Regions from separate parts of the Homo sapiens genome. Here region 2 is linked to region 1. Evidence: fine-mapped expression QTL. Tissue or cell type: fibroblasts. Region 1 holds a variant in brackets; the other region holds the start of a gene. All regions are shown on one strand. Distances are between the middles of the regions.

Region 1 (8,106 bases):
GATCATACCACTGCATTCCACCTGGGTGACAGAGTGAGACTCTGTCTCAAAAAAAAAAAAAAAAAAAAAAGAAAAAGAAAATTGTTAACTGCCCTTAAAAATATAGTCGTTCTCCTTCGACACTCAAAAGTTCTCTATTTGCAAATGAAGTTCATATGAATTTGTTAATGATTCACTTCTCAGTAATTGGCAATCCCAAATTAATCAGATTTCCTTGCACTAATGGTTTCTTTAATAAATGATATTAGATGGTAATAGAAAGGACAGTCTTGGCAATAACTGCTTAAATCATAGCATGAGGGATTTAGATTTTCATCAGCAGCTTGCACCAGAAGCAGAGTCTGACTGAATATTATCTCCTTTGTAGATTAGATAGAAGAAGAATTAGGGAGATACAAAGAAGCATTTTCTAAGCATAGTTAGACTCTGATTTTGGTGACAGTACGAACTAGGGAAGTTGGAAAATGCCTCATTGGCCTAAAACTGGTAACATATAATAAACTAGGACTGGAGGCAAAATTACAGAAGTTTTTTTGGTAATTCTCTTGGGCTCTTTCTGGGGGATTCTTAGTCTTATAGAATTTTGCTACTTGATGCTCATCCATGGCCTGTGGAATGTATCGTCCTTTCATGTGGGTGTGGGGAGAAAAGGACTGGGGCAGTGGGAAAGGGGAGGCCCCATTGTTGCCAACACCAAGCCCAAGCTTTCTGTAGATGTGGCTCCCCATTTTCAACTAGAAGAAGAGAAATTTTTCATGTTCTAGCTTGAGAAGCCATGCTCTTAAGTTATTTGACCCTGTACATCCTCGACCCTTCAAAATATTTAAATTATTCCACACTTCAGCGCTGGCATCACAGATTATACGATAATAATTTACCAAGCTTCTTTTCTGCAAACAGGTAAAGGAGGAGGAGACATGGGTGGTAATGTAATTTCTGGATAGTTTAAACCTAAAAGCCTGCTATTAAGAGAAAAGGGGAAAATGACTGTTCAAGACCTGTATCTTGAAAGAATGCTGTTTATCTAGTATTCAGGGGCCAGGGAGTGTGTCTGTGGGTAAACTAAGCAATTCCTCCAAGAATTCTGACGGGAAACAGTTTTGGGGTTTGTCATAGTTTCTAATATTCTCTTAAAATAATCTGTTTCCCAACAAGTAAAAGCAGACGTCATTTCACGTAAAGAATTTCTCTGACTCCACCAGTAGCCCTTCCATCTTCTCATTTGTCCGGTTAAGCTTGAGTCAGAAAAAGAACACAACAATTTTGGTAAAAAATTTGTTGTTCTTCTCATCTGAATAGCCAAAAGTTATTGGTGTGTAAGGACCACAGTTCAGATAAGAGCTACTGTAACTAAATTTAGAGAAATTACTTTTCAGATCGACTTTCCTGTTCTAAAATTACATACTTCTGGTTGGTCTTTGCTTTATCTTCCTAATCAAGATCTGAGGTCACTGGAGGTCAGAAACATATGGCAAAAAGGAATTTAAATATTTTCCAATTAAAAAATTATCCTAAAATATCTTTATTATATTTCCAAGCCATAAATGATCACAGGTGCTTTGAGCCATGGTACTGATCCCAGGAAAGTGTTTGCAAACGTTTAAAAAATAGAATGGATCAGTTGATTCATGCTTTAGCTGATGGCACGGTCTCTTGGGAAGCTAACCCACTCTTGCCTCTTGCCCATGGGGCCAGGGGAACACTGCTGTTTAATTTGTCTTAAATACCTCTTCTGAGACTGTATTGGTCCCCGACCACCCATTTGCAAAGATCCAGCATCCGTCAAGACTATTTAACAGACGTTCCAAAAAGCTGGATGCTGACAGTCCAACTGTCATTTTAACCTTGGCATCTCCCATGACAGAGTGTGGAGCAGCAGGCTGTGACCTAGAGGAAAGACACAGAAGTGGTGAGGGGTTGCAGGGGCTGTAGCGTGGTGAGATGGCCCTGTACAATATCAGGTGAAGGGGAAGCATTTATAAACTTCCTTTGTTTTGATGTATCTGTTTTTCCCCCTATTTCTGCCTATACACCTACTTGAGCACTGGCTTGGCTAAAGTTACCCCCAAGAAAATGTTGAAGTAATGAGTCACCTACCTCACTTCATTTTTTTGAGACCTCACTTTCTTTCCTTCCTTTCTTTCCCTCCGAATTTATGAATGAAAATAGATAGGTAGAGGTTGAATTGGCTAAGGCTGTCTGTTGCTTTTTGATTTTCCCATCTCCAGGGGAAGAGGGCAGGGAACGATCCACTCCAATTAGGAATCCTAGACTTATATTCATTTAACAACTTTATATTATCCAGAACATTTTGTACAAATACATTGTAGAAATAAGTTATTTCTAGTGCTTGGGGCATAGTCTGTGAACTGATTTGTCTGTATATCTCGTAAATTTTCCATTTAGATGATCAGAGCAGGACAGAAGTTTCTCGCTGTGCTCTTAGGCTACAGGCAACTGTTGTCACTGGCTGACCCTTGGTTATAAGTACGTGGGAACTATGTCCTGGGCTTCACAGACAGGAGGAGAAGAGTTAGTTCTGTGGTGAGCTGTGTCTTTGGGGTGGTGGGAAGTCAACCCCAAAGAATGATTCTTATCATTGCTTCTTTTTTAACTAAGTTGGCAGAGTTTTATCTTCTCCATAGATACGTGGTAAAGGAAACTCATTTGAACCATTTGAACTGGTGGTTAATCTGAGTAATATGGAATATGTTCAAAGTGATGACATTGTATTACTTCTGTGCATGGACAGGAACTAGAACGGCTAATAAAATTGTTGTCAGGTAGAAGTTCTGAAGAGCCTGACATGATAAAAAGATAAGGATCATTTTAACCAGCACATTTGCTAAATAGGTAGTTGTTACTGCTGTGCCAAAAATTTCTTTCTATTCTTAAATTATTTAAAACATTATCTACCTTTGCATTGGCTATTAATTGGCCAAGCAATGCATTCCTTTCTACAGATAAATGTTCAGCCTGGTCCTATACAAGATATCACCATATCCTATTTGAACAAGTGCCAAATGAATGACGTGCATTATATATACTGAGTCTTCATCCATCAAAATAATTTTATTTAAACAGTTTGGATTAATAGGAAAAGAATGGTACTTAAAGTAGTGGTTCAGAGTCACAATAAACAGCCTGAGGTGACATCTGAGAGGCAGTTTTGGCGCTACCTGGAAGGCAGAGGTGACAGGAGTACCTGTTAGCCGAAGGCAGTGAGTTTTATGCTGTGGCCTGGCCTTTGCTCCCTGCAGTCTTTCTCGTCTCTTCCACATGTTTGGTGCGTATTCAGGTTTGGGCCCAGCCTACGTGGTGCAAAATGAAACACCATGTGTAATTTCAAGGGTGGACACATCTTAGAGTTCTGAGCAAAAGAAGAATGAGCACTTTATGTGTTGCAGGAACGCTGCTTGCATCTAGTAGATGCTCACAATGTATCTGCTGAACATTGAATGGCATTCATGAAATTAACGCATAAAACTTCCCGTTAGTTTAAAGCAGAGCCTGGGGGTCTACAGTGGAGGGCTTGCCCATCCTTATCAAGCTAGACAACTTGGTAATAACTACTTAGCTAACTCTCCTAACGCTACAGACCAAGAATAT[A/G]ACGCAAGGTAGGGGTACAGTAAAAGTCATGTGAATCTGGAATGCCGGTATTCCAGGCATTTGTTGTGGGTTTCCTGGCATTAGATTGTTCATGGGTCAGTATTGCAAGAGAATGCACATTTTTTACATCATACTCTCGTTGAAGGCAGGGTTTCCTTACTGGCTTACTGATTATATCACTCGCGAAGGGATTAGTCAGAAGGCAATGGAAACATCTTTCGTTTTCATTGTTCAGAGAGAGACTGGGGGTTTGTCTGCACTTTTACATTATCAGTGGGTAGAATCTCCCTTTGAGATTCTTAACAGAGGGTCATGAATTAGTATAAACCTTAGCTGGTCTGTATCCAGGATGAAAAAAATAATCTATTTTGGTGAGCCACTTGAGTCATAGGCTATCTAACTTACGAGCATGCCTACTCTGTTAGGTCCAGTAAAGGATTCAGAAAGAGACTTCAGGAGCTGCCCTGGGAAACAAGACAATAAAACAGTGTTGAATTAGGTTTTCTAGAGTAATGGTGCTCACCCACCTTGGTAGTTCAGACAATCATAGCAGAGCAGAACCAAAATGATATTAAATATATTAATTGATATATCTAATTAATCAGTCATTATTTATTGGTGTACCATTAGGTGCAAGGTATAATTCCTACTCATGAGGACTGAGAAAGACCAGTTGAAGAAGGGTAGAAAAATAATACCAACTTTAAAAAACTCTCTCTGATGTAACAATATAAGGCAATGGTAGAAGGTTGTCACATACAGAATAAGATCAATCATCAGATGTGTAGTTTAAGGATTGCCGTGAATTCAGAAGCAGAAGAATTCTCCAAGGGCTGTCTTCATTTGCAAAGGCATCACCAATGAGCAGGAGGATAGGAAATGCCTGGCATGTAGACGGGAGAGACTTGGAGCAGTTGCCCAAATGCCTCAGAAGTAACCAAGAGCAAGAAGTGGTTGTGATATTAAAAGAGATCAGCTCAAGTAGGGACTTGTGAGATACCAGATTGAAATTTAGATTACCACCAGACGACAGGAGCTGTGGTCCTTGTGACTCCAAGGGTGATCCCTAGACTAGCAGCATTGCATTACCTGGGAGCCTCTTAGAAATGCAGGATTTCCGGTCCCAACTTAGACCTGCAGAATCAGAATATTTGGGTGTGGAGTCCAGGAATTATGCTATAAAAACTGTCCAGTTGATTCTTCTGCATGCTCAAGTGTGGAAAGCACTGCTGCTTAGAACTGGGGCTTGGTTCCAAATGACAATGGAGATGCTTTGAAGAATCATTGAAGATGCTTTGAAGAGGAGAAGTGGCATGTCTTCTAGTGAGCAGACAGACCAGGGCATTTCAGAGACTTTCTTTTACGTGGTAGCCTCTGCTGTATTCTCACTTACCTGTTGCTCACCACCTGGAAAGTGAAATATCTCCAAATTGCCAGTCACTAACTATTGAAGTTGAAATTACATGACTGTTCTCTGAAGTGGTTTCTGAAGGCTGTCAGTAGGCCTTTTCTGGATTCTGATATGGTATGCGTCTAAAATATGTTTCTGTAAGTAAGGATTTTTTAAAGTATATACTTTGCAAAAAAAAATACTCCAATCAACAATAAGAACAACTATAGGGTACTTAGAGTTTAGAACATAAAAGTCATTCATATGTTTTCTAACCATTTAAAAAATCAGTTTCCTGTATTTTGATTCCATTCATTTATCTAGCACTTATCAGGAAATTCAGGTTTCCATGTTACACAGTTTATATGGGCCCTTATAAATCAGTATACCACTTTGATGGAAAAAATTTCCAAACTAAATCATTGCATAATCATTCATAGCAATAGCATCACTGTTATAATAAAATTAGCACAAATTTTAAAGTCTTGGTAAAAAGATTTTTGAATCTTATTTTAGTTTTTCTTGGCAACTTTGGTGTAACAGTTGGCTATAAGAAGGGCTATAAGATGTTAGGATTGCTATTCCTGCTTTAAATAGTTCCAGATTGGCAATTTTGGGGCAATTCTAGCGGTCACCTATTCCCTTATTTCCTAAGCTGGGAAGAATGGAATTTTCTTAAGGTTGAAATCCTAACCTGAATTTTACTGATAGAACCACAAAGTGGTACCTAGCCGACAGATTCACACATGGTGTTCACTTCTGCTGTTGAGTAGCACGTGGGTCCTGGTGCTAGTGTTTCTTTTCCTGCTCAGAGGACCTCTTCTCTCTTACTGATTTACAGTGACGTCCAGATGGTGGAGTTTGCTACAAAGCAGCCCACTGTATGAAAGACATGACATTGTATTCACCTGGACTCTAGGTTGACTCTAAAGAAGGCAAGGGTCCTTTGGTCACAGGGAGAACTGTTGTGTTCCTTCACGAGGTAGCAGAGACTTTGTGTTCTAGAGACTTGAGACCACCTCTATAAATATAACCAGAGCACAGGCTTCCTGTGTGGACCCTCAATACACATTTTTGAATGTTAGCCTCAAGCACCTTCATTTTTGATGTATAAAAAAATGGCATTTTATGGCTGGGCGCGGTGGCGCATGCCTGTAATCCCAGCACTTGTGGAGGCCAAGGAGGGTGGATCACGAGGTCAGGAGATCAAGACCATCCTGGCCAACATGGTGAAATCCTGTCTCTACTAAAAATACAAAAAATTAGCCAGGTGTGGTGACATGCACCTGTAGTCCCAGCTTTTCAGGAGGCTGAGGCAGGAGAATCGCTTGAACCCTGGAGGTGGAGGTTGCAGTGAGCTGAGATCATGCCACTGCACTCCAGCCTTAGCGACAGAGCAAGACTCCGTCTCAAAAAAAAAACAAAAACAAAAACAAAGGTGGCATTTTATTGACAGCTCTATTGAATGATGGTGAGGGTGACTCCTGGAGTAACAGAAAGAGCCCCTGGCTTTGGGACAGACACGGGGTCAAATTCTGGCTGTGCTACTTACTAGTTCCATGGCCTTGGGCAAGTCAACTCCTCTGAGCCTCTGTATCTTTGTGTCAAATGTGGATGTTAACATTTGCTTTCATAATTCTTGCATCAATGGAAAAGTAGCTTATATTTGACATATAGGAGGTGCTCAATAAATGATAGCCATGATTACTCTTTACTTGTTAATTATGTCCTCTCATTTGCCTTAGATTATCATTTTCTAAGCAAACAAAAAGGCCAAGATGGAGATGGTTTGCTCCAAACAGCTAGGTCTCATCACTGTTCTCTTAAGTAAACCAAATGCGTAGAGATGCCCATGTCCTCATGGCTTTCCTGCACCCAGAAAACCCACACCCTACTCATTTTGACACCTTCCCCCTAAATCTCCACTCTTCTATGGAAACTTCCAAATAATAAAATACCATCGAATAATGTTAACGTATTTCATTGGAGTTTCTCATCTCTCCAAAGAGATTGTAGCCTTTTTGAAGTCCTCTATAAATATGTACTAGTCAGCTGATTTGAAATTTGTTTATCATGGAGCCATAGGCTGCTACTGAATGAAGACTAGTGAATGAAAAATCAGAACTAATATTTTCCTGAGCAATTTTTAAGGGGTAGGCAGCTACAATAAAGACACCTTATTTTAGTTTTCCATGAAGTAGCTACTATTGAATCTCGATTTTACAAATAGGGAAACCAGCATTTCCTTTTGTCCAAGTTCATGCAGCTTGTTCACGCAGCTGAGCTAGGATTTTAACCCAGGCAGTCAGGATTCCAAGGCCAAGTTTGGACCCCTATACCACACCAATGAGAATGAAGGATGAGGAAAGCTATAGGAAACTTTAAAAACGTCCATGGAAGGAGTGCCCAAACAGGGACTGACTACAGTCAAATCATGAACTGTTTCAGTTAGGTTCCCAGGCATTTGTGACATTACCCACTCTGTTTAGATAACGAATTTATGTGTTTAGAGAGACCAGCCTCCTATCTGCATTGTCAGCCATCAGTCTAAATCAAAGCTTCCACCCAGTCCTGAATCTCTCCCTTACTTGGTCTAACCACCTTTCCAAGTATTTAGGAACAAAAGATTTGTGAACAGATTAAACACAGGCTGCTTTTGTTCCACTCCTACAGCTACCTATGCCTGCTTAATGCGGACTACAGGGTGTAGACTGGAGTCTGCGCTCGTGTATTTTAAACACACGCGGGAATTCAGCACCTTCCTCCGACAGCACAACAATGGTTCAACAATTCTTCACAGAAGACCCCGCGCTATTATAGCAAATATTTATAAGTTTATCTCACCACACTGCTCAGTGTTCAGAGTAAATCTGAATGGAAATATGGAGATCAAAGAATTTAATAATTTAAAAAACCCTTTCACGCTTTATCTGTCATCAAATGAAAGTATTAGTGAAGTGGTATGGAAATCCTCTTCAGCGTGCCTTCAGCCACCAGCTGTGCCACTTAAGATTTAAAACAATGTGATCAAGTGTTCAGAATCCATGGGATTGAGTTGTATGTTTACGTTAGTGTATTATTTCCAAGTTTCCAGTTTCCCCCGGATT
Region 2 (8,106 bases), 230 kb after region 1:
AGCAATGCCACAGAATAGGGAGGGTGTCTCTGACTACACCCCAACCGGCCCTGTCCTCTATGCCTGTCTTAGCCAGGTGCCAGAGAAAATCGGATGCTTGGGGCCCAATGTCATCATTTTTAGTGATATAGCACCTTCATTTCTACTCATGCCTTTTTCTAAGGTGGGGCTGGCATGTCCTTCTTATTGGCCATTCCTCCCACATGGGTGTTATTTTATCACCTCAGAGGTCACACTCATCAGCCCGGCAGCTGGGCCAGTCCAGGCTAGGCTTCTCTGGGTCCTAGCAGTGGACATGGCTGGGACTCCAGATTTTCTGGTTGTTCACCACCACCAAATTCTTACCACTCCTGTTGTTTAGGCTATAAGATTTTGCTCTCGATTTTCAAATTTAAAAATGTTAAGAGCATATAAATTGTACATATTTACCAAATTAAAAATTGGGGGAGGAAAAGGAATTACCATGTCAAAAGATACCTGATTTTGGAAGCCTTAAAACGTGTGTATTCAAAATCTGGGAAATGCAGTATGTACCCAACTGAACTATGTCCTCTTGGAGGGAAGGAAACCACCAGTGCCCTCTTCCACAGACTGATGTCTTATGCTTTCCCGGAGGCAGCAGAGCACATTGGCCCTGGACCAGTGACTCTTTCACCATTGGTTGAATGACAGTTACAAATGCACAACTCCCTTCAGAGGCAAAACTTCATTCCTAAGCCTAGCAATGGAAGATGTTAGTCTCCAAGTCATCAGTATACAGGTGTGAGGAATGGAGAAGCTGGGGTTCTTTAAAACTGCATCCTTCTTACCAGCAAGCACTTAGGAATTCAAGGAGGAAAAAAAGTTTGACTCTTGCCTCAAAAAAAAAAAAAAAAAAAAAAAGAAATCACAGAACTCTTTTTGAAAGATGACAAATTCTAGATTTGTGGGGTCAAAAGTCACAACATTTAAAAGAAGATACAGCACATGTCTGTGTGGAATATCTCACGACATTGGCCTAAAGCCAAACACAGGGGGCATAGTTTTCTGGACCTGGAGTTCAGTGACAGGGAGTGTGAGTATAGATTTTGTGAAGTCACAAAAGGGGCTGGTTTCGTTTGGATGGAGTAACATGCAAGTGTGAGGGAAGGAGTGACTCAGGCAAGGCTTTTCATAGAGAAAGAGTCTCTGCCAGCTTGTCCTCTCTCCCATCTCTGCTCCTTACCTCCCCTGCTCTCTCCACCCCGAAACCAACTAAATAGCCAGACAAGGGTCAGATGGGTATTACGTGAGATAAGGCATGTGGCAGGACAGAGGCCAGTGTACTTGCATGACTCTTAAAGGCCTCTTTTGCCTCACCCTGGTCCCAACTCCAATATGTGACAATGCATTGGAAGTTGTAAGGTACTAATGAGATAGCCCATCCTTCCAAGAGCTGTTCCTGTTAGATCCCATCCATTCCAACCTAATTTCCAACTGCATCCTGGAACATACTGTTACTTCGATGGGAGTACTGAGGCCATCTTTCTTCCACCAGCCCACTGCATCCCAGGTGCCTGCTCTCTGCCAGGTTTGTAAGTTCACACTTTATCTCTATCCCATCCTCCTGAGGGCACACCCTACAAAGAAAAGAGGAAGCAAGAGAATCAGATTTGTCCCTTGTCAAAACAAATAGGTGTTTCACTGGTGCCACAGCTTTTGTTCCCAAACCATCCAATACAGGGTTGGGGGGCAGGTAGGGAGATTTGCTGGGAGGTGGGCAGTTTGCTCCTATTTTAAGCAGCTTGGGAGCTTTGCCTACCGGTGTCCTCTGCTGCCCTCTGTGGCCACAACATCAGTGTCTCTAAAGACACCCCTCTGAATCCGGGGACCCAGCTCCCCATCCCCCACTCACTGCCCCAGCATCACCTTTCAAAGTTTTTCTCCTCTAGTTCTCCACAGGCTCTAAAAAGTAAAATTGGATGCACCCTAGCCACAGCCTGCATCTGGTTTACACTCTCAGCTCCTTCCTGCAAAGGTTATTGAGCTGAGTCCTGGAAGAAATCTCAGGCCACCCGGCTCTGCTCTAAGCAAGGCTGGGTGCAACCCTTTTGAGAGTTATTATAATGAGTTTTTGGTGTATCTCAGACACTGCCAAAATCCCGGACTTGGCAAGGTGCGGTGGCTTATGCGTATAATCCCAGCACTCTGGGAAGCCCAGGTGGGTGGATCACATGAGGCCAGGAGTTCCAGACCAGCCTGGCCAACATGGCAAAACTCCATCTCTACTAAAAATACAAAAATTAGCCGGGCATGGTGGTGCACATCTGTAGTCCTAGCTACTTGGGAGGCTGAGGCAGGGGAATAGCTTGAACCCGGGACGTGGAGGTTGCAGTGCGCCAAGATCGTGCCACTCCGCTCCAACCTGCGCAACAGAGTGAGATTGTCTAAAGAAAAAAAAAAAATCCCAGACTCAATGCCAGCTGTTTGTGTTAGCCTGGGGATCCTTCACTTATAGGGTGCAGTCTGGCCAAGAGGAAGGAGCTATATAACATGGTTGATGGAATTTCTAACATTTAAGCTCAGGGGTACATGTGCAGGATGTGCAGGTTTGTTACATAGGTAAATGTGTACCATGGTGGTCCACTGCACAGATCATCCCATCACCTAGGTATTAAGCCCAGCATCCGTTAGCTATTGTTCCTGATGCTCTCCCTCCTCCCACCCCTCACCCTCTGACACGCCCCAGTCTGTGCTGTTCCTCCCATGTGTCCATGTCTTCTTAGGTTGATGTGGTCTTGAGTGACCCCTCCTTGCCTTTCCTCTTTAAAAACAAGATCTAAAAGGCTATGTTCTCTATGGGTTGGAGGTGTTGCCTCGATCTGTCAAGCACAGTCCAGGACTCAGAGGCTGTTGTGGTGAACTACTGTAGGCACCTGGAAGCCACCAAGGTGCCCTTTTCCCGCACTCTAGTCCCAAGTGAGGGAAATAAGCCTATGGTTAAGGGAGAACTATCTACCAATTTGAACTCATTAAAATACATAAATGTGTCCACTAGAAATGGCTGGCTGGAGAAGCCCAGTACCAAATCACCCCGTTCCTGAAACCCACCAGCCCCATGAAATAGTTCGCTAGAGAGAGATTTGCAATCTTTGAATTCGTTGACTATCAACCTGTATAGGTGCTCCGTGCCCCGAGATCTGAGAAAATGACAAAATACGTCTACTTCCCGGCCGGGCACAGTGACTCACGCCTGTAATCCCAATACTTTGAGAGGCCAAGTTGGGCAGATCACTTGAGGTCAGGAGTTTGAGACCAGCCTGGCCAACATGGTAAAACTCCCGTCTCTACTAAAAATACAAAAATTAGCTGAGGGTGGTGGTGGGCGCCTTTAATTCCAGTTACTCCGGAGGCTGAGCCACAAGAATCGCGGGAAGCGGAGGTTGCAGTGAGTCGAGATGGGGCCACAGCACTCCAGCCTGGGCGACAGAGTGGGACTCAGTCTCAAAAAAAAAAAAAAAGTATTTCCCAATTCTTCGTCAGTTTTTGCCCTCTCCCCACTTCGCCTTCTCCAGGCTCCTGAAAAGTATCTCCCCCAACCCTTTCTGTGTACACGGGGAAAACACGTGTTCATTTTTATTATGGCGCTGAAACCTACCCTTCTCTTCAAATCGCTTCTGTAGATCGTTCTAGTATAAAATGTGGCAAGAGGCTAAAGGGAGAGATATAGACCAGTTCTTTGGCCCTCGCTTTCCAACTTCAAGTTACACCTGTGAAACTCATGGGTCCTTCCACAGCCTTCAAAAACTAAGGGCGTCCCCTGTCCTCTCCCCAGATGTCCCTTCCCCATCGCCGGTAGCGAGTGGGAGACAGCTCAGCGCGGGGCAGGGGAGCACTGGGCCCGGAGATGGAAGGCAGCGTCAAAAGCGCCGCTGGAAAATCCCTGAGCGCTAACCGTTGCCTGTGTGAGCCCTTAAATCTACAAATTTCCAACACCTGTAGCCTTTGGGTTTCCCAGGACTTCCATCGACCCTGGCGGCAGAGAGGGCAGGCCTGAGATGCAGTGACTTGAGGGCACATGGCCAACTCTTGTCACTCCAAGATCACACTGGGGAACCAGACTGACTTCTCCAATTCTGAACTCGCCCCGGCCTCGGGCGGCTCAAAGGGCCTCCTCTGCCGCATCCCCGCCAAAACCAAACCGCCTGGCACAAGCCGGTAAGCAACCACCCTGCTGGGAGAGGGAAGGAAGAGTAGGCGCAGCCCTAGATCAATTTCCTTGCACTGCTTCTCCCAGACGGTCAAGTCAGCTGCGTCCCACCGAAAAGGGCGCATCGCCCACGCCCGAAACGCAGCCGCTGGGGGCCGAGAAATTATCCCCACCTGGCCCGAGGGCCAGGGACGCAGGAGCGCAGCAGCGTGGAGGGGCTCCGCGCTGGCCCGGCGCTGCCCGCGGTCCTGCCCTCGTTCCAAGGGCACGGCGCCGGTACGAGGACACCGACGCTGTGGCGCAACTGCCGTCCCCCGCAGCAATCCCGGAGCCCGGCTCCCGGCCGCCCCTCGGCCCTGCGCAGGCTGCCTCTCCCCGACGCGGAGTCCCACCCCGCTACCCGCCGCCCAGACGACCTCATAAACAAGTCCTCGAAGTGCGGAGGCAGGAGGCGGGGCGCAGCGCGGGGGCAGGAGGCGGGCCAGGGTCAGGGCAGAGGCTGCGGCCGCGCGTCCCCATTGGCCGGGACGCAGTGAGCCGCCCGGAGCTCGGCGCGGGCGGGGCCTGCCGGCGCGTGCCCGCCCACACACCCGCGCCGGTGCCCGCCCCCCGCCCTCCGCGCCCGCCCCGTGCCCGCCCCAAGCCGGCCGACGGAGTTTTTAAAGTGGGCTGCCGGCCGCGGGAGCTTTACACTCGCGAGCGGACCGCCACACGGGTCCGGTGCCCGCTGCGCTTCCGCCCCAGCGCTCCTGAGGCGGCCGTACAATCCTCGGCAGTGTCCTGAGACTGTATGGTCAGCTCAGCCCGGCCTCCGACTCCTTCCGACTCCCAGCATTCGAGCCACTTTTTTTTTTCTTTGAAAACTCAGAAAAGTGACTCCTTTTCCAGGGAAAAAGGAACTTGGGTTCCCTTCTCTCCGTCCTCTTTTCGGGTCTGACAGCCTCCACCCACTCCTTCCCCGGACCCCGCCTCCGCGCGCAGGTTCCTCCCAGTCACCTTTCTCCACCCCCGCCCCCGCACCTAGCCCGCCGCGCGCCACCTTCCACCTGACTGCGCGGGGCGCTCGGGACCTGCGCGCACCTCGGACCTTCACCACCCGCCCGGGCCGCGGGGAGCGGACGAGGGCCACAGCCCCCCACCCGCCAGGGAGCCCAGGTGCTCGGCGTCTGAACGTCTCAAAGGGCCACAGCGACAATGACAGCTGACAAGGAGAAGAAAAGGTAAGCGGGCGTCCGGGCCGATCAGGGGGCCGGTCCGAGGCCAGGGCCGGGCTGCGCGGGGCAGGCGCGACCGAGAGTGGTTGGGAGAAGAGTGCTGAGAGGTCTTCGGAGCTCGAGGCTCGGTTTGGAGGGCTGTGAGGGGGAGAGCATGTGCCCGGTTTGGGGGCGCGGATCAGCAGCTTTGCAGTGGAGACTTCTGCGGCTCGGAGGAGTCGGGGATTTGCGCGCACGGCGAGGCCAGGAGGCCGAGGGAGATGGCCTGGAGGTCGGAGGTGCTTCCGCGGTGCCTTTGAAAATCTCCCAGCCGCCCCGCAGCAGATTACCGTGGCCACCGGCGCTTGGAAATGTTTGTGGGTGCATGTCCTCGACTTTCTCTGGTCTCTCATTTTGGGGCAGCATCCACGTCTCTATTTTTCTCTGGATTCGCGGAGTCCTTCCAAATGCGCTCCTGTGCCCGCGCCGCGGCCCAAGTGGGCAAAGGGGGGCGGGAGGCGGAGAGCGGCTCAGGGACACGATCCTACCGAGGAGCCAGGACCCTTCAGAGCGCCCCGCTGCCGGGCTCCAGACCCCACCGAAGGTTGGAGAACCCACTTCCTCGTGCCGCACCTTGACTCTGGGGAGAGTAGGTAGTGAGTGACCTGGATTGCCCTGCGGGGGCAGATGGTTCGGTGTGTAGGAAGCGGACGGCAACACTGGATGTCCCTGGCAGGTCCGGGTGTCTGTCTCCGAAGAGGACAGAGAAGGGCAGCCACGATCTGCCCGCCTGCCCTCGCGAGCCTCTCGGCACTGGGTGAGAGGCAACTCTGGCCATTTCTTGCTGCCCTCTCGCCCTCTCCCGGCCGCTCCCAGTCCAGCCGGGCCCGGCGCTACCCGAGCGAGGGTTCGAGCCCTCTGCGCGGCCGCGCAGAAGCAGGCAGGGCCTCAACTTCTGCAAATGTGTGCGGCTCGCCGCCTGTCCCCTTTCTCCTCCTGTCTCCACCCGTGCGGCCCCAGTGGCCTGGAGCTTCCAGCCCCGCGCTTGGCCGCGGCTTGGCGAGGCTATGCTGCGGGAAGCTGGAATCCAACGCGCGGCCGGCTGAACCGCCTGAGCCGCGGGAAACCAGCGGCGGAGCGGCGGTATAGAGGTGCGAGGATGAGGAGGACCGACTCGCTAAGGGAGGGAGGTGACTGGCCGGGAGGGCTCACTGCCGAGGTTGATTTGCTCTTGTTCCAACTTCCACTACGGGACTGGAGCCAGAAACCGTGTATCCTCCGGTCGAAAGCAGCGGTTCCCACCTCGGGGCACCGATAAGGATTTGATAAACGGGAGCGAATCGCGCCTGTCCTGGCTCGGCGCCCGGGCCCTTCACTGCGGGATCGCTAGGGGAGGGGATTGGGCCCTGCTCCCCTTTCCTGGCCGTAGTCCCCCCTTTCTCGTCACCGTCGCGCCCTCAGACCCAAGACAAGTGAGGGAGCCCTGAGACTGCAGCCGGCACATTCCCAGGGCCCTCGGAGCAGTCCTGGGGTTCCATGTCTTTTGAAGGCAGCAGAGCAAGGAAAAGACTCTTAAGATTCCAGTGCGTTTTGTAAAAACCAATCATAATGCTAATAATGACTGAACCATCGAAAAGCAAAGTTATAGACAGCGCCTGCAGACGCTTTCGGGTCCGGAGCCGGGGAGGGAACTTGTGTATTTTACAACTGCGATGCCTATCGGGAATGTGGCAATCGCCGAGGTGGGGCCTGACAGTAATCTTGACAAATGTGTGAAGTGTCAGCTCCTCCTGCGCTCCTTAGCGCCGGGTTTTGTGCAGTTTTGTACCGTATATACCGAGAAACTTGGGAGCAGGGGAAAAATGATTTCGACACACCCAGCTACAGTACCTGGTTCGTTAGCGGACTGTTGGAAAGAGAGAAGAAGCGGGAATGGGAGCGGGAAGAACGTTGCGTAATTAGACTCCCAATTATTGGCGAGAGCGGCCGCTTTAAGAACCACTGTGGGGACTGCCTGCGAAACGCCTTGGAGGCCGCTGTGTGAGCTGCGGCTCCGGGCTGGTGGCCACGCGAGGGTGTCCGCCCTCTTCGACCTGCCTGGATTTTTGTGCTGCAGAATGGCAGGGCAAACAGCGTGTCCTTCACCATCTAGAGCCCCTTAAGGGGTTGTCCAATTCCTATTGGGCTAATCAGTTTGAGACTCATTTACTTTTCGTGCCTGGGTCTGTTTGCTGGCTGCAGGCTTCTTTAGGGACCAAGATGTAATTAAAATATGTGAACCAATACATTGAAAGTTGGTGTTGTCATGTAAGTGACTGCTGTAGCTTTTCTGAGTGCCTCACAAGGGCGATGTGACAGTGAGGGGGCTCTCTGCTGATGATTCTGCCCACTAGTTCTTACATTTTGTGTTTCTTTGGTTTAGCAGAGCAGTTTCTTCCCCCAAATGCAATATGGGCAGAACATTTGGAATATTCGTTCTAACAATGGCCCGTCAAGAAGTGGGCAGATGATTTTGTCCCAGAATGTTCACACGTCGATAAATATGTTAATGTTTAATAATAAAGAGTTTGCTTTCTAAATGTTAGTTGGCTGGGTGTCCTTGATAGTACCAGTTTTGGTGGTAGTGGGCATTTGCGGTGACATCACAGATGTCAGAAACTGAAGCCTGGTGGGTGGGGGTACTGCACTTTCACTCACCTTTTTGTGCACGCATCTATCAGGAATGCCTGAGTCCTTTCACTGGGA

Alleles and levels. Alleles are on the strand shown, and positions count from the first base shown. SD is a standard deviation of normalised expression in the study named.
In carriers of allele G in region 1, the expression in fibroblasts of the gene that starts at base 4,858 in region 2 tends to be higher than with A alone (small effect, 0.19 SD a copy in GTEx).

The links. PIP is the estimated chance that this variant, and not a neighbour inherited with it, causes the effect.
Region 2: it holds the start of EPAS1, and the variant in region 1 is fine-mapped to the expression of EPAS1 in fibroblasts (GTEx, PIP above 0.99).

What each region holds. Positions count from the first base shown.
Region 1 is chr2:46,064,233-46,072,338 of GRCh38, forward strand. The region is part of intron 10 of PRKCE (protein kinase C epsilon); the gene reads left to right. Among named protein-coding and RNA genes, the nearest start is that of EPAS1, 230 kb to the right of the region's middle. RefSeq lists an enhancer at 3,082-4,281. The variant A/G (reference allele first, on the strand shown) is at 3,610.
Region 2 is chr2:46,292,550-46,300,655 of GRCh38, forward strand. EPAS1 (endothelial PAS domain protein 1) reads left to right here and starts at 4,858. Exons shown (of 16, transcript NM_001430.5): 1 at 4,858-5,388. The coding sequence starts at 5,363. RefSeq lists silencers at 4,312-4,891, 5,122-5,451.